4 linked regions of the Homo sapiens genome follow. The protein of the gene in region 3 interacts with the protein of the main gene of each other region in a pairwise test. Each region holds a gene or a part of one and is shown on either strand. Other genes may lie near its edges.

Evidence for each region. The genes of interacting proteins can lie anywhere in the genome.
Region 1: the proteins of NGFR (region 3) and STMN2 interact in a two-hybrid assay, tested with the Homo sapiens proteins (one large-scale study listed by BioGRID and IntAct).
Region 2: the proteins of NGFR (region 3) and ANXA7 interact in a two-hybrid assay, tested with the Homo sapiens proteins (one large-scale study listed by BioGRID and IntAct).
Region 4: the proteins of NGFR (region 3) and RCC1 interact in a two-hybrid assay, tested with the Homo sapiens proteins (one large-scale study listed by BioGRID and IntAct).

The regions. Positions count from the first base shown.
Region 1 is NC_000008.11:79,663,117-79,666,658, forward strand, and holds the end of STMN2 (stathmin-2), read left to right. Parts: intron 1-463; coding exon of another isoform or gene 464-545; intron 546-1,698; coding exon 1,699-1,758; 3' UTR 1,759-3,042; downstream 3,043-3,542. UniProt on the Homo sapiens protein: Regulator of microtubule stability. When phosphorylated by MAPK8, stabilizes microtubules and consequently controls neurite length in cortical neurons.
Region 2 is NC_000010.11:73,386,559-73,390,058, forward strand, and holds part of ANXA7 (annexin A7), read right to left. Parts: intron 1,857-3,500; coding exon 1,754-1,856; intron 1,226-1,753; coding exon 1,131-1,225; intron 1-1,130. UniProt on the Homo sapiens protein: Calcium/phospholipid-binding protein which promotes membrane fusion and is involved in exocytosis.
Region 3 is NC_000017.11:49,505,293-49,508,792, reverse strand, and holds part of NGFR (tumor necrosis factor receptor superfamily member 16 precursor), read right to left. Parts: intron 3,137-3,500; exon of another isoform or gene 2,495-3,136; coding exon 2,135-2,494; intron 1-2,134. UniProt on the Homo sapiens protein: Low affinity receptor which can bind to NGF, BDNF, NTF3, and NTF4. Forms a heterodimeric receptor with SORCS2 that binds the precursor forms of NGF, BDNF and NTF3 with high affinity, and has much lower affinity for mature NGF and BDNF.
Region 4 is NC_000001.11:28,533,543-28,537,042, reverse strand, and holds part of RCC1 (regulator of chromosome condensation), read right to left. Parts: intron 1,994-3,500; coding exon 1,897-1,993; intron 1,786-1,896; coding exon 1,663-1,785; intron 1,173-1,662; coding exon 1,017-1,172; intron 782-1,016; coding exon 662-781; intron 297-661; coding exon 144-296; intron 1-143. UniProt on the Homo sapiens protein: Guanine-nucleotide releasing factor that promotes the exchange of Ran-bound GDP by GTP, and thereby plays an important role in RAN-mediated functions in nuclear import and mitosis.

The DNA of each region.
Region 1 (3,542 bases), on a different chromosome or scaffold from region 3:
GAGTCAACTTCCTGCTTACTCCAACTCTGTATCTTTGAAGGAAGTATAGGGTGGTCTATGCCTTTTTTCTCCCAGAATCTACACTTGAAAAGACACATTTTTCCATGCAACTATAAAATGTTCTCCTCACTCAACATTGAAATTGTATAGCAGTGATTAAGAGAGTGAGCTGTAGAGCCAGGTTCCCTGGGTTTAAATCCCACTTGTTAGTATCATGAAGATGGGCAAGTTACTTACCCTTCCTGTGTTTCAGTTTCTTCATCTGCAAAATGGGGACAATAATAGAATGTCCACTATAAGATTATTGTGAGGATTAAGGGAATTAATACAGGTAAAACGTGTACTGATGCAGGTCTGGTACACATTAAGTGCCTAATAAATATTCAGTATTATGATATAAAGAACCCTATAAGTGTAGACTCCTTGAGATTAATAGAGTTTAACGATAAGTTTTACTTTATAGCTGGTCAAGTTTATTTCTTCTGAACTAAAAGAATCTATAGAGTCTCAATTTCTGGAGCTTCAGAGGGAAGGAGAGAAGCAATGTAAGCAACATTCTACAGAAATATAAATAATACTACTAATAATTAGCATCTTAAAATTTCAATTCAATGAACATTTATTTAGCGCCTATGATATATGCAAGACAGTTTGATTTTAGTCATCTGATGTATAGCCACATACTAAAAAATACTGATTTTAGTCATCTGATGTATAGCCACATACTAAAAAATACTTCCTCCATCAGTTCCCTCCTCAGGAAGTTCAGTTCCCAATCCCAGGCTAGTACCTTGGTTCCTTATGTAAATAAACATCCACCAATTACATGCTATCTGCAAAGCACTCTGCTAGGCCCTGCAAATGGAAAAAAAAATGATAAAACATAGTCCAGGCCCTCAATGAGCTTACAGTCAAATATAATAGAGGAGACAAGAACAGAGAGGCTCATAATACAACTAGAATAAAATGACTGCCGAATAAAAGGAAAGATTTATGCAGGTGTTCAAATGGAAAGTGAGATAAGTTTGCAGGTTAGTCTTTGCAGTCTCATAAAAATCTTTATGGAGAAAAGGACAATGGTCATAGGGCTTAAAGAGTAAGTTTATAATCCTGACCAGTGGAGATGAAAGACTAGCATTGAAAATTGCATGACAAGACAATTCCATTAAACTGAAACATCAAGTGTGTGTAGGAAAAGATGGGGGTTATGACTGGAAACGTCACTTGGACTGCAATTATGAAGGGCCTTGACAAACAGGTCAAGAGTTTAAGAAGCAGTATAGAAAGTCTTCGTCCTGGATCTAGCCCTCCCAGAGTGTCCATCAGGATTATAAAGTCCTTAAAATATTAGTCAAAAGGAACGACATCATTAGAAATGATAGAGAAACAATAATGTGATGTTTTATTACCTTTCTCTGGATTTATACTCTGATCCTAATATTCAAAACTATCTTAATAACATGAACTTTTGGTCATAGTTTTAAACAAAAACAGTGTTAAATATATTTTTTAAAACACAGTAAGTCTTGTAAGATCTTTTCTAACATGACATTTTGCAGGGCCCATATTTTCCTTCTGAAATGGGAAAAATTCATAAAAGTAGACACCAAACTGGGTTACTTCTAGTCAAGCGCATGGTACGCAAAGGACCAGACAAAAAGGGCCTGTGACATTTCTTCTTCCTTTTGTGTTTTTTAGGAGAGGCATGCTGCGGAGGTGCGCAGGAACAAGGAACTCCAGGTTGAACTGTCTGGCTGAAGCAAGGGAGGGTCTGGCACGCCCCACCAATAGTAAATCCCCCTGCCTATATTATAATGGATCATGCGATATCAGGATGGGGAATGTATGACATGGTTTAAAAAGAACTCATTATAAAAAAAAAAAAACAAAAAAAATCAAAAATTAAAAAAAATCAATGCGGTCTCTTTGCAGAATGTTTTGCTTGATGTTTAAAAAATACCTTGGATCTTATTTTGTAAATACTTACATTTTTGTTAAAAAATACAAGTATTGCATTATGCAAGTTATTTCATAATCTTACATGTCCTGTAACAGGCTTTTGATGTTGTGTCTTTCCACTCAAATGAATTTGCTAGGTCTGTTCTTTTTGAAGCTCCCCATGTCTAACTCCATTCCAAAAGAAAAATGAGGTCAGTAGACAGTCTATGGTGCTAGAAACCCACCATTGCCTAATGACCTAGAAGGCTTTGTTGTCTCTGAGCTTGACTAAGACCATACCTAGATCACAGGTATTATGACTCCACATGAACCTTCACATTTGTTCGCTCATAATCTACTTACTGCCTAAAAACTACAAAACCAGGCTAAGAAATACCACCAGTCATAGCATTTACTTCTGCTTCTCCTGGATTATGTGCTACAAATGTGCTTTGGCTTTAGAAAGGGATGGATGAGAAGACAGACCTGAGACCAATCTGGGTAGAAGCAAAAAGTTGAACCTTTTAAAGTGCTGAACACAAATCCAAATTCGAATGGTTCAAGCAGCCGTGAAATCGCTCTTCATAAAGTGGGCTTAATTCTCTAGTTTAAGTTCTTTTGATGGAATGAATTAATTAATGTGTCAGGTGGCTTATTTGTGGATGCCATGATTGATGATGTTCATTTTAAGCTCTTACCTATAGTACAAGTACATGATGCTACTGAATATTTTTCCACTTGGAAACTGTGAGCTGGTTGTTGCATTAAAACACACATACAAACAAAATCAAAAACACTGCGGACTTTCACTCAAGCTGGTCTTTCTTCCCCAGTGTAAGGCAATCCTGCCTACTAACAACACCAACAACAAAACACTCCATCTGTGAAGCTGACGCAGTTAAGGGGGCTAGGCAGGGCATTTGTGCCAACTAAGAATCACCAGATACCCACCATAAGTACCTATCGCAGTTTTGAAGTCGTTTCTCCCCAACTCCCAACTCCTGAAGGTTGCTGCCTGCATATTTACTCTTCATTAGTGCTATTTTCCTGTATGTCATTGTGAGCAAGCTGTGATTAATAAAGAATTGGAGTTCTGTGAACTAATAAAGGTTTGGTCTGTTCTCTTGCCTCTTCATGTGTCTGACCCTGGAGTTCAGATTTTAAAAGGGCAGCCACTGAATTAGACAATCTCACAAGCAAAGAGATAATAAGGAGAGTTTGAAGGAAACCAGTGCCCTGCTGAGTCATTTCCCTTTGGGAACAGCAGGCCGCATCTCTTTTCTCTTGCCCTCTGATGGGCCAACACTGTGGGAGAGGTCTTCAATCTGCTCCCTTTAAAAACATACAGGACTGAACAAGATACCACAAAATGCAGACTGATAATTCTGAGGAAGTGAGCCCTTTTCAAAACATTGAAGGTTCCTGGCATTATCTCAAGTTCTCCCCTGTGGCCCACAGAACGCCTCCCCCAGCCTAGGCCGTCTGTTAAGATGTGATCCCTGACGTACTGCTGAATTTTGTACTGCCAATAAACACACTGCACACATGGGCGCAGCAGGGTCCTGTCAGTGACCCAAATGGATCTTACAGGACCAAAGGAACCA
Region 2 (3,500 bases), on a different chromosome or scaffold from region 3:
AAAGAAGTTTGCCATGAAAAAAAGAAAAGGTATTCAAGGCCAGGAGAATGGCATGTACACAACACAGAAGCATAAAAGATCATGGCGTGTACAGAGAATGGCAAGCATTTCCATATTATTTTTTTTTGAGACAGCGTCTTGTTCTGTCACCTAGGCTACAGTGCAGTAACACAATCACAGCTCACTAACAGCCTGACTTCCTGGGCTCAAGCAATCTTTCTACCTCAGCCTCCCAAGCAGCTGGGACTATGGACACACGCCACCACGCCCAGCTAATATAATTTGTTGTCATCGTTGTTGGAAATGAAGTCTCCCTATGTTGCCCAGGCTGGTCCTGAACTCCTGGCCTCAAGAAATTCTCCTGCTTTGGCCTCCCAAAGTGCTGGGATTACAGGCGTAAGCCACCACGCTCAGTCCATATAATTTTAACATAGGACACGTTTAGAGAAAGGGAGAGAAGCAGAAGGCGATGCCCAGGACCAAGAATAAACAAGGGCTATGTAATAAGCCTTGAATCCCACTGTAACAGGCAGAAGACTGAGAACCATCCTCTTGATCATGATTGTAGTTGTGATCTACTTTCTACTGAATGTCTATCACATATGTGACTGGGGTAAGGTATGATTATGAGATCAAGGACTACTCTAGAATGAAAAAGCCTTTTAAGAGAAATAGGCCAGGCATGGTGGCTCACGCCTGTAATCCCAGCACTTTGGGAGGCTGAGGCAGGCGGATCACTTGAGGTCAGGAGTTAGAGACCAGCCTGGCCAACATGGTGAAACTCTGTCTCTACTAAAAATACAAAAATTAGCCAGGCATGATGCTGTGCACCTGTAGTCCCAGCTACTCAGGAGGCTGAGGCAGGAGAATTGCTTGAACTCGGGAAGCAAAGACGGCAGTGAGCTGAGATCGCACCATTGCACTCCAGCCTGGATGTTGGTGCGAGACTTCATCTCAAAACAAAACAAAACAAAAAACAGAAATAGGGAATACAGTACCCTTGAGGTCTCTAAAGTCTAGTTGTCCCTCTTTTGCACCACAGGTACTAATCAAAATATAGTATCCAATCTGACATGAATGCAGAGTCTACCAGCCACTGCTGGTGCTCATTCCAGGAAAGAAAAACATACCTTGCCATAGGAGGTCTTAAATGCTGCTTTAATTTTTTGCCTCTGATCATTGGAACGGTTGGCCACCACATCCACAATTGCCTGCTCATCTGTCCCTGGAAGAACCACACATGTTTAAGTAAGGACAAAGTACATGCTAGGTGCTGCTTGAGGTCATCTTTTTTTTTTTTTTTTTTTTTTGAGACGGAGTTTGTCACCCAGACTGGGGGTGCAAGTGCAATGGTGTGATCTAGGCTGACTGCAATCTCCACCTCCCAGGTTCAAGCAATTCTCCTGCCTCAGCTTCCCGTGAAGCTGGGATTACAGGCATGCATCACCATGCCCAACTATTTTACTTTTTATTTTTAGTACAGATGGAGTTTCGCCATGTTGGCCAGGCTGGTCTTGAACTCAGGTGATCTGCCCACCTCGGCCTCCTAAAGTGCTGGGACTACAGGTGTAAGCCACCACACCCAGCCTGAGGTCATCTCTTAGAATGCTTACAAGGCACTAGACATCAGATTAAATCCAGGTATGCGCACCCAGGCTGACACATAAACTTGGGTTTATGAGATAAGGTTTATTTTTACTTTAGAACTGATTACTTTAACTTATTAAAAAAGACAAAAATTTGTTTTCCTTACCAAAACCCTTCATTGCCTTACGAAGAATTTCTGCATCTCTTATAGCATCGAAGTTGGCAGCTGGTCGGATAGTTCCTTGAGTGACCTGAGTCACTGTGGCAGGCTGAAAATAAAAGGCATAAAATCCGTGTCAGCATTTCCAGTAAGTTTCTAATGAGGAAACTTAAAGACTTCCCCAGACATCAATCTTAAGTAAGAAGGCCAATGTTTGGGTTTTAAGGCAAGGATATGAGCATTTTATTACCAGAGCTCATTATGGAACAGACAGGAAAGACCTATCCCCCTTCAGGACAGATTTTTCTCCTGCCAACAGATAGCCAGACACCAAACTTCCAGGAGACAAGATGGCCAAACTTGTGAAATTAAAGTCACAATCTTACTATAGTTTCCTTTTTGGTAGAATAGGAAGAAAAAAGAAGACTGATCCCTGAATGGTGTGAGATGAGCGACAATGTTTGATTTAAAAACAGAAGAATATAAAATGGCTTTAGTGAAGTAGCACATGAATGCCCAGTGAGATTTCAAACCAGCAATATAATTTTAGTAATCTCTCTTAATTTCCTATATGGACCCTGATTATTATACATGAAATAAATCTATATGAAAATTAAAAATTGCCATTTAGCAAATACTATGGTAGTAACTGTTTCAGGCAAGAATCAACAGTGGGTGCTAAAATTAGGTGGCAAAAGTATAAAGAAACAGGATATTTGTATAACCTATAACATTATAGCAGAGAAACCTTGCAGGCACCAACTTAAATGATCAAAATTAATTATCACCAGTAATGGAATAAGTCAATAATAAGTGTCTCCTGATATGATGCACTGGGGGCACAAAATCATTTCTGTGGTACTCTTGCCAAAAAGGCATGACCTGGATTTAACCATGAGAAAATATCAGACAAACCCAAATTAAGAAATATTTTATAAAATAACTGACAGTGTTCTTCAAAAGCATCAAGGGCATGAACAACAAAGACTGAGGAACTATTTCAGATTAAAGGAGACTTAAGAGACATGACAATAAATACAACATTGCATTCTGGATTTGATCCTGAACCAGAAAAAGGACATCATTGAGACAACTGGTGAAACTGAAATAAGGTCTGTAGGTTGGGTAACAGTACTATATCGATGTTATTTCCTGATTTTGATCATTGCATTGTGTTTATGTAGGAAGTTAACATTTGGAGAATCTGAGTAAAGGGTATATACAAATTATTTGTACTATTTTGCAAGTCTAAAATTATGTCAAAATTAAAAGATAAAACAATTTAAAATACAAAGCTATGAAATAATTCAATAGTTTCCCCCAATTTTTTATTTTTTAGAGATAGGCTCTCACTCTGTTGTTCAGGCTGGAGTGCAGTGGCACAAACATAGCTCACAGTAACCTTGAATTCCTGAGCCCAAGCAATCCTCCTGCCTCAGCCTCCTGAGTAGCTAGCACTACAGCCATGTGCCACCATGCCCAGCTAATTTCTTACTTTTGTAGAGACGGGGGTCTTGCTATGTTGCCCAGGCTGGTATCGAATTCTTGGCCTCAAGTGATCCCCCTGCCTTGGCCTCCCAAAGTGCTGGAATTACAGGTGTGCGGCCAGCCCAGAATAATTCAAGAAGTTTCTTAGGGTGTTCAAGTCAGGGCTTAAGAGGGATGGGATGAAGATGATGCTCCACTACTTTTTAAAAAAATTTTAATTGTAACAACACATTTCTTGTATGTTTGAATGTTGACCTAAAATAAA
Region 3 (3,500 bases):
GAGCTGCCCTCATCTCTCCAATCCCCTCTGACGGGGGCGGGGGGATGAGATCCAGATGTGGCCACGTCCACTAGCATTCCAACCTACTAAGCCCTTGGCAGGTCCTGACAGCCATTTCCGGGCTGCATGGAGGGACCAGGTTATCCCTATTCAAACCGAATTTCACTGGGGCAGCGGGTAGCCCTTCTGCCCTGAGGGTGGGTGAGTCACCATGTTGACACCTGAAACGTAAGTAAATGCGGGGAAAGTATGGTACGCTGGAGGGGAGGGGGCAACAAAACCAAGAATCAAATTCCATTTCCTGAAATGGTCTCTTGTCCCAGAGCTGACATTTAACCCTTCAGAGCCTGAAGCTGAAAGGGGAACAGGGTCTGGTATGAACACTCCCTCAGGAGCACCCTCCTCCTTCGGGGTGGCTGGGAAAGTGGGCTGGTATCTGAGAGGAATCTGTGAATGCCCCAAAAGACAAAGCCTGCTCCTCCCACAGTCACCACCTTTCTTTGCTCTAGCAGCGCCCCCAAGTCCCCCCGCCCCGCCCCCAGCTGGCTGGTCTGGACTTGCCTACAGAAATGAGCTGCCTGCTTGCCTGATGCCTGGCTGCTGAAACCCTTCCTGCGCTCTGCCTGGCGCCTGATGCCACTTGCCTGTCTCCTGGCCCAGGGCAATTGCCAACAGAACCACCACATCCTACTCCTCATTCCTTCTCCAAGGCAGGAAGCTTTGAGCTCAACCTGGCCTTAGCCCAGCGTAACAGCCCTCCCCATCCTGAGCTCCTAAAGCCAGAGATGGCAGGACTTGGAAGGCAGGTGTGGGTTGGAGCCCCTATCAGACTGGAGGGTCCCCAGGGGCAGGAGATCTGGGTGCTAACTGAGGCAGAAGCTCTGCTGCCTCCATCAGAATGGGGGATCTCTAAAGTGAGAGCTATCTCTCCTTCAGCTGGGGACTAAGTGCTGGGACCACGTCTCTCTCATTAGACTGGGCGAAGGCTATCTCTCCCATCAAACTGGGGGCTCACTGAAGGAGGTACTATATTGCCTGCTCAGGGTAAAGGCAACCTGAGGATGCAGGTTAGTTCTCAAAGGGAAATAGCTCAATGTGTGCATGGCCACAGGATGATGGACAGGATGTAAAGGCACTGCCAGCCTCTCCCCGAAGTGGAAAAGCCCACCAGTCTCCCCTGAGACGGACGTCACCAACCAGAGACCAAAACAGCTCTGCCCTGGCTCCCACGGGGCTTCCTTCTCCCATCCCAAGAACCACCCCATCTCCTTGGGGCCTGTGCTTGGCTAAGGTGGGCACGCCCAGCTCCCATCCATCCCTGGAGCTGACAGCCACGAGCATGCACTGCCTTGTCCCCGGGCTTTTGAGCCCCAGGTCTGCCCCTCCCCTCCTTCTTCTTCCACAGAGCCCCTCCTTAGTGTTCCCTGCATGCCCCTCATCCTTCACTAAACTGCGGAACACGGTTGACCCCTCCCCTAGACAGGGCAAGCTGAAGTGGGCCAGCCCCACTGTATTCCCTAACCCGCAACAACCCTGGCAGCCATATGACCAGTGAGGAAACCGAGGCCCAGAGACAGGAGTGGACTCCCTAACGTCAGTCAAGGACAGGGTGGGTTCCATCTCAGGTCCCAGAGCCAAAACCCACCATGGACCTAGACCAGGGCTCAGAGTCAAAGGGTCCCAGCTCCTGAGGGTCCTCAAGCTGCTCTTCCAGTTCAGAAAGCCTGCCTCATGGATCAGACCTCTCCCGTTCTGTGCCCTGGGGGTAGTGGCCACCTTCGAGCTGCTTGCTGTTCAGCTAATCACTAGCGGGAAGCCACAGAGAAATGCGTCCCGGAGGATGAGTTACAATGTAGTACCCGCGGCCTGGGACGCTGAGAACGCCCACTTTCCAAACAGCCCAAAGAAGGTAACACAGAGAGGGGTTCTTTGCTGAGACAGGATGGGGAATGACCTCCTCCCTTAGGTTACCAGGAAAGGACTGAAGCTCAGGGAAGGTGCACGCTGCCTCAAGGTCACCAAGCTGCCCCAGCAGGCCAGGCAGGGTCCTTGTCGACCTCCAGAGAGCGCCCTTCCTTATGCCCCCAGCCCACCCCCGCACCCCCACTCCCCCCGCCCCCCGAACCGCACTCACCCTCGCACTCGGCGTCGGCCCAGCGTGTGCACTCGCGGAGCTGGCGCTCGGTGTCCTCGCACACGGTGCAGGGCAGGCACGGGTCCACGTGGTTGGCCTCGTCGGAATACGTGCCGTCGGGGCACTCCTCGCACACGGTGTTCTGCTTGTCCTGGCAGGAGAACACGAGGCCCGAGCCCGCCTCGCACACGCGGCACGCCTCGCAGCGCCCAGTCGTCTCATCCTGGTAGTAGCCGTAGGCGCAGCGGCACACGGCGTCGTCGGCCTCCACGCACGGCGCCGACATGCTCTGGAGCCCCACGCACTCGGTGCACGGCTTGCACGGCTCGGTCGCGCTCACCACGTCGGAGAACGTCACGCCTGAGCGCAGCGGACACCAGATTTAGTCGTCTGCTCTTTTGGGCACCCGGGACGCAGGAGCTGGAGTCTCTCCCTCCCCTATTGCCTGCCAGGACGCTGACTTCCTCCTTCAGCCTTCTCATCGGCTCCCACCCTCTTCCAAGGGACCCTGACCCCTAGCCTGTGAAAGTTGGTGGCAGCCAACTGGGAAAGGGGGAGGAGGCCCGGAGCCGCATCCTCCAGGCTCCAGAAGCACTGGCCGGCCGGGAGGCTTTCCGGCATAACCCAGCTGGTGCCGCTAAGTTTCTTGGCAAATTCTCTTTGAGAGTTCCCAGGCCTGTACTATGTTCCCAGCATGATTAAGGAATAATCTGAACGTGGTTCCCACCCAGCCCTCCCCGCGGGCCAGAGCTGGGCTGCTAACCCGGTCCAGGCAAGGTAGGCCTTCCCCTAGGGAGCCTCCTGCCTCATCTGCCTTCAGTTCCTCTCCACACAGGTGTGGGCTCAGATGCAGCCTAAATGGGAGTGACCGGGGTTAGACAGCAGAATTTCCCACCCATGGCACTACCCCCATGCTGCTGAAGGGCTTGGATCCTGAGGGTGGGGACGGACCTGCAGGCAAGAGGGCTCAGGTAAGGCAGGAGCCACTGAAGCTAGAGAGCTGGCTCTTAGCCCACACTCACTCTCTCAGATGGATATTGTTGAGCAGTACACAAGCTGCACAACTATATGATCACCCTTTTGAGATCTGCACATGCGTCGTCTGCCCTTTCGGCCAGGATGCAAGGGAGATGTCCAAGCTCATTCTTCACTCATGTTTTCTTAATTACTGGATGTGCACTCCAGAATAAGGAGAAGGAGGCTGGGCACGCCAGGGTCCTTGCCTCCTTGTACAGGGAGGGGAAGGAACAGGGCCAGATCTTCTTCACCCCTTCCAGCTTTGGGTGGGGAACTCTGTGCCACCCTGGATCTGGCAGGACCTATCCTTGCTCCAAGGACAGGAAGAGCATAGATTTAGGAACCTGAG
Region 4 (3,500 bases), on a different chromosome or scaffold from region 3:
GAAGCAGGAACAAAGTGCCATCACAAACACTGCTCTCTGTACCTCGGCTCCCCCGAGAGTGGACATCACAGCCTATTGGGGAATTGGGTAAGAACCATGACCCCCAGGTCCCAACTAGACAGAGTGTAGGCAGCCCCACTCACCATCCTTGGTCACAGCATACCCCACAGAGGCCCCACAAGCCACCGAGGAGACAGCAGGCAGCCTGGAGATGAGGGTGGGTATGCTCTTCTCCTCAGCACCCTCTCCAAGGCCCAGCCGCCCATACTCAGCCCGGCCCAGGCTGTATGCTTTTCCTATGGGAGGAGGGAGAGAGATGAGCAATAGCAGAGGGCGTGCTACAGGCAAAATGGGTGGCAGGCTAGGTGAGTCCACCTGTCCATGGGAGTGTGTCCCTGCTCCCAGAGCGATCAGAAGGAGATCTGCAGTGTCTCTTCCCAGTTTTGGAGGAGGCCTAGGAGAATCTACATGGGCCCCCATTGAACTCACACTTGGAAGAACACCAGGACTCTAGGAGGATGAGAGTGACTCTCATGGACCCATGTATGGTACAACCCATGGAACAGACCCAGGCTCCAAGGACCATGGTCTCAGGAATCTGGCTAGGCCTAGGCCAGGGAACACTCCACCCCCAAACTAGAGAAGGACGTAAAGGCCCTACCTTCCGAATCCATGCAGACTGTATGGTGCTGGCCACCAGAGAAGCCCACCCAGGACTTGGTGGAATTCTTGAAGGATGTTAGGTTCTGGGGTATGAAGCAAGATTCTGTGCCCGGAGTTCCTGGGGGAAAGGCCGGAGCCATCAGGGGTGAAGGTGTTCTGAGAGCTGCCCTTCTCAATCTCCTCCCACAGTGAGGCCACCTCCCATCAGGATATGGACATTCTCACTTTACAGATGACAAAACTGGCTTGGAGGGGTTAGACGACCCCGCAAAGGATGCACAATGAATGAGTGGCAGAGCCAGGACAGGAACGCAGGCCACTGGGTCATGCCTGAAGCTGGGCTCGGGGCTCACCAAGCTGATGGTAGTTGGAGAGGCCGAAGCCGTACACGTGGCCCTCATGGGAGATGGCAAAGGTGAAATAGGCACCACAAAAGGCATCCTGGAATCTCACGTGGCCCCGGCTTCCCCTGGATTTCAGCATCACACACTTGGGGACCAGGAGTCGTTCTGCAGGCAAAGGGAAAGCCACGGTCAGTGACAGACAGACACACATGGCTTCTCTCTGCCCCGAGTTTAATTCTCCTCCATTATAAAAGCCCTTGAGAGGCTAAGTAGGGACTCTTATCCCTATTTTATAGAAAAGGAAACTGAGATCAAGAGAATACAAGTGCCTTGCTCAGATTCCCACAGTCATTACGGGTATCATTTACGTGGAACTTACCATCTGCCTGATATTCTTCTCATTAACTCATTTAACTTCACAGCAACCTAATGAAGTAGGTTTACAGGTAGGTAGACTTAGTGATGAAGAAACTATGTTCAGAGTCCCATAGACAGTAGGTGGCAAAACTACCAGAGCAGTCTGTCTCCAAAGTCCTAACCAACACCACAAGCCCATCTGATGCAAGCCTGACCACAGCAAATCCTTCCTGCCTTTGGCCTTCACTGTGGGGGTGGCCTGCCAATTTGCCCTGCTGGAGGTACCAAGGCCACTTACCGAGGCCTTGCCGGCCACCACGGTTGGCAAATAACTCAGGCACACGGCCTAGCTGGCCCTGTTCCCCGCAGCCCAAGGTGTAGAGGTCACCATCAGCTGTCAGCATCACCAAGTGGTCGTTTCCTAAGGATGAAAAGGTAAGGGATGCAGGCCACAACTGTAAGGCCCAAGGCTAGGCCAGCCCCAGAACAAGGTCCTCCAACTCCTGCCCTGAGCAAGTGCCCCCAGACCCACCTGAGGCCACCTTTACCACAGGCACATCCAGCTGCACCTGCACAGGCACCATGCTCTTCTTCATGGGCTCCAACAGTCCAATCACACCGTTATTGTCCTAGAAGGGAGGGACAGGGCACTTATCAGCCAGTCCTGCCTGCCCCGTGCCAGTGAAATCCAGAAGGGCAGTGGCACCAGATGGGGATGGAGAAGTGGGCAGGAGCCAGGCCACATACTCAAATACTTATGAATGAAATCATTTATGGTCTGCGACTTGCATTAAAATAATCAAGGAGTCAGAGAGCGGATGCAAATAGAGATAAACAAGTCTGGCCACAAGCTGATAATCATTGAAACTGTGTGGCAAGTAAATGGGCACTCAATATACTATTCTGGGCCAGGCATGGTAATTCATGCCAGTAATCCTAGCACTTTGGTAGGCCCAGGTGGGCAGATCGCTTGAGCTCAGGACCAGCTTGGGCAACACGGTGAAACCCCGTCCCTACAAAAAATACAAAAATTAGCTGGGCGTGGTGGCACAAGCCTCTAGTACCAGCTACTTGCGAGGCTGAGGTGGAAGAAATCACCTGAGCCCAGGAAGTTGAGGCTGTAATGAGCTAAGACGATGCCATTGCACTCTGGCCTGGGTGACAGAGCAGGATCTCGTCTCTAATTAAAAAAGAAAAGAGGCCGGGCGCGGTGGCTCATGCCTGTAATCCCAGCACTTTGGGAGGCCAAGGCGGGCGATCACGAGGTCAGGAGATCGAGACCATTCCGGCTAACACGGTGAAATGCCGTCTCTACCAAAAAATACAAAAAATTAGCCGGGCGTTGTAGCGGGCGCCTGTAGTCCCAGCTACTCGGGAGACAGAGGCAGGAGAATGGCGTGAATCAGGGAGGCAGAGCTTGCAGTGAGCCGAGATCGCGCCACTGCACTCCAGCCTGGGCGACAAAGCGAGACTCCGTCTCAAAACAAAGAAAAAAGAAAAGAGGCCAGACGTGGCGGCTCAAGCCTGCAATCCAGCACTCTGGGAGGCCCAGACGGGCGGATCACCTGAGATCAGAAATTCACAACCAGCCTGGCCAACATGGTGAAACCCCGTCTCTACTAAAAATACAAAAATTAACCAGGTGTGGTGGCGCATGCCTGTAATCCCAGCTACTCGGGAGGCTGAGGAAGGAGAATTGCTTGAGCCCGAGAGGCAGAGGTTGCACTGAGCCGAGATTGTGTCATTGCACTCCAACCTGGGTGATAGAGCAAGACTCTGTCTCAAAAAAAAAAAAAAAAAAAAAAAAAAAAAAAAAAAAAAAAAAAAAAAAAAGAAAAGAAAAGAAAAGAAAAAAATATAATTCTGATATTCTGATTACTTCCTTTTTTTTTTTTTTTTTTTTTTTTTGAGACAGAGTTTCGCTCTTGTTGCCCAGGCTGGAGTGCAATGGCGCGATCTCGGCTCACTGCAACCTCCGCCTCCCAGGTTCAAACAATTCTCCTGCCTCAGCCTCCCGAGTAGCTGGGATTACAGGCATGCACCACCATGTCCAGCTAATTTTGTAATTTTAATAGAGACAGGGTTTCTCCATGTTGGTCAGGCCGGTCTCGAACTCCCGACCCCTCAGGTGATCAG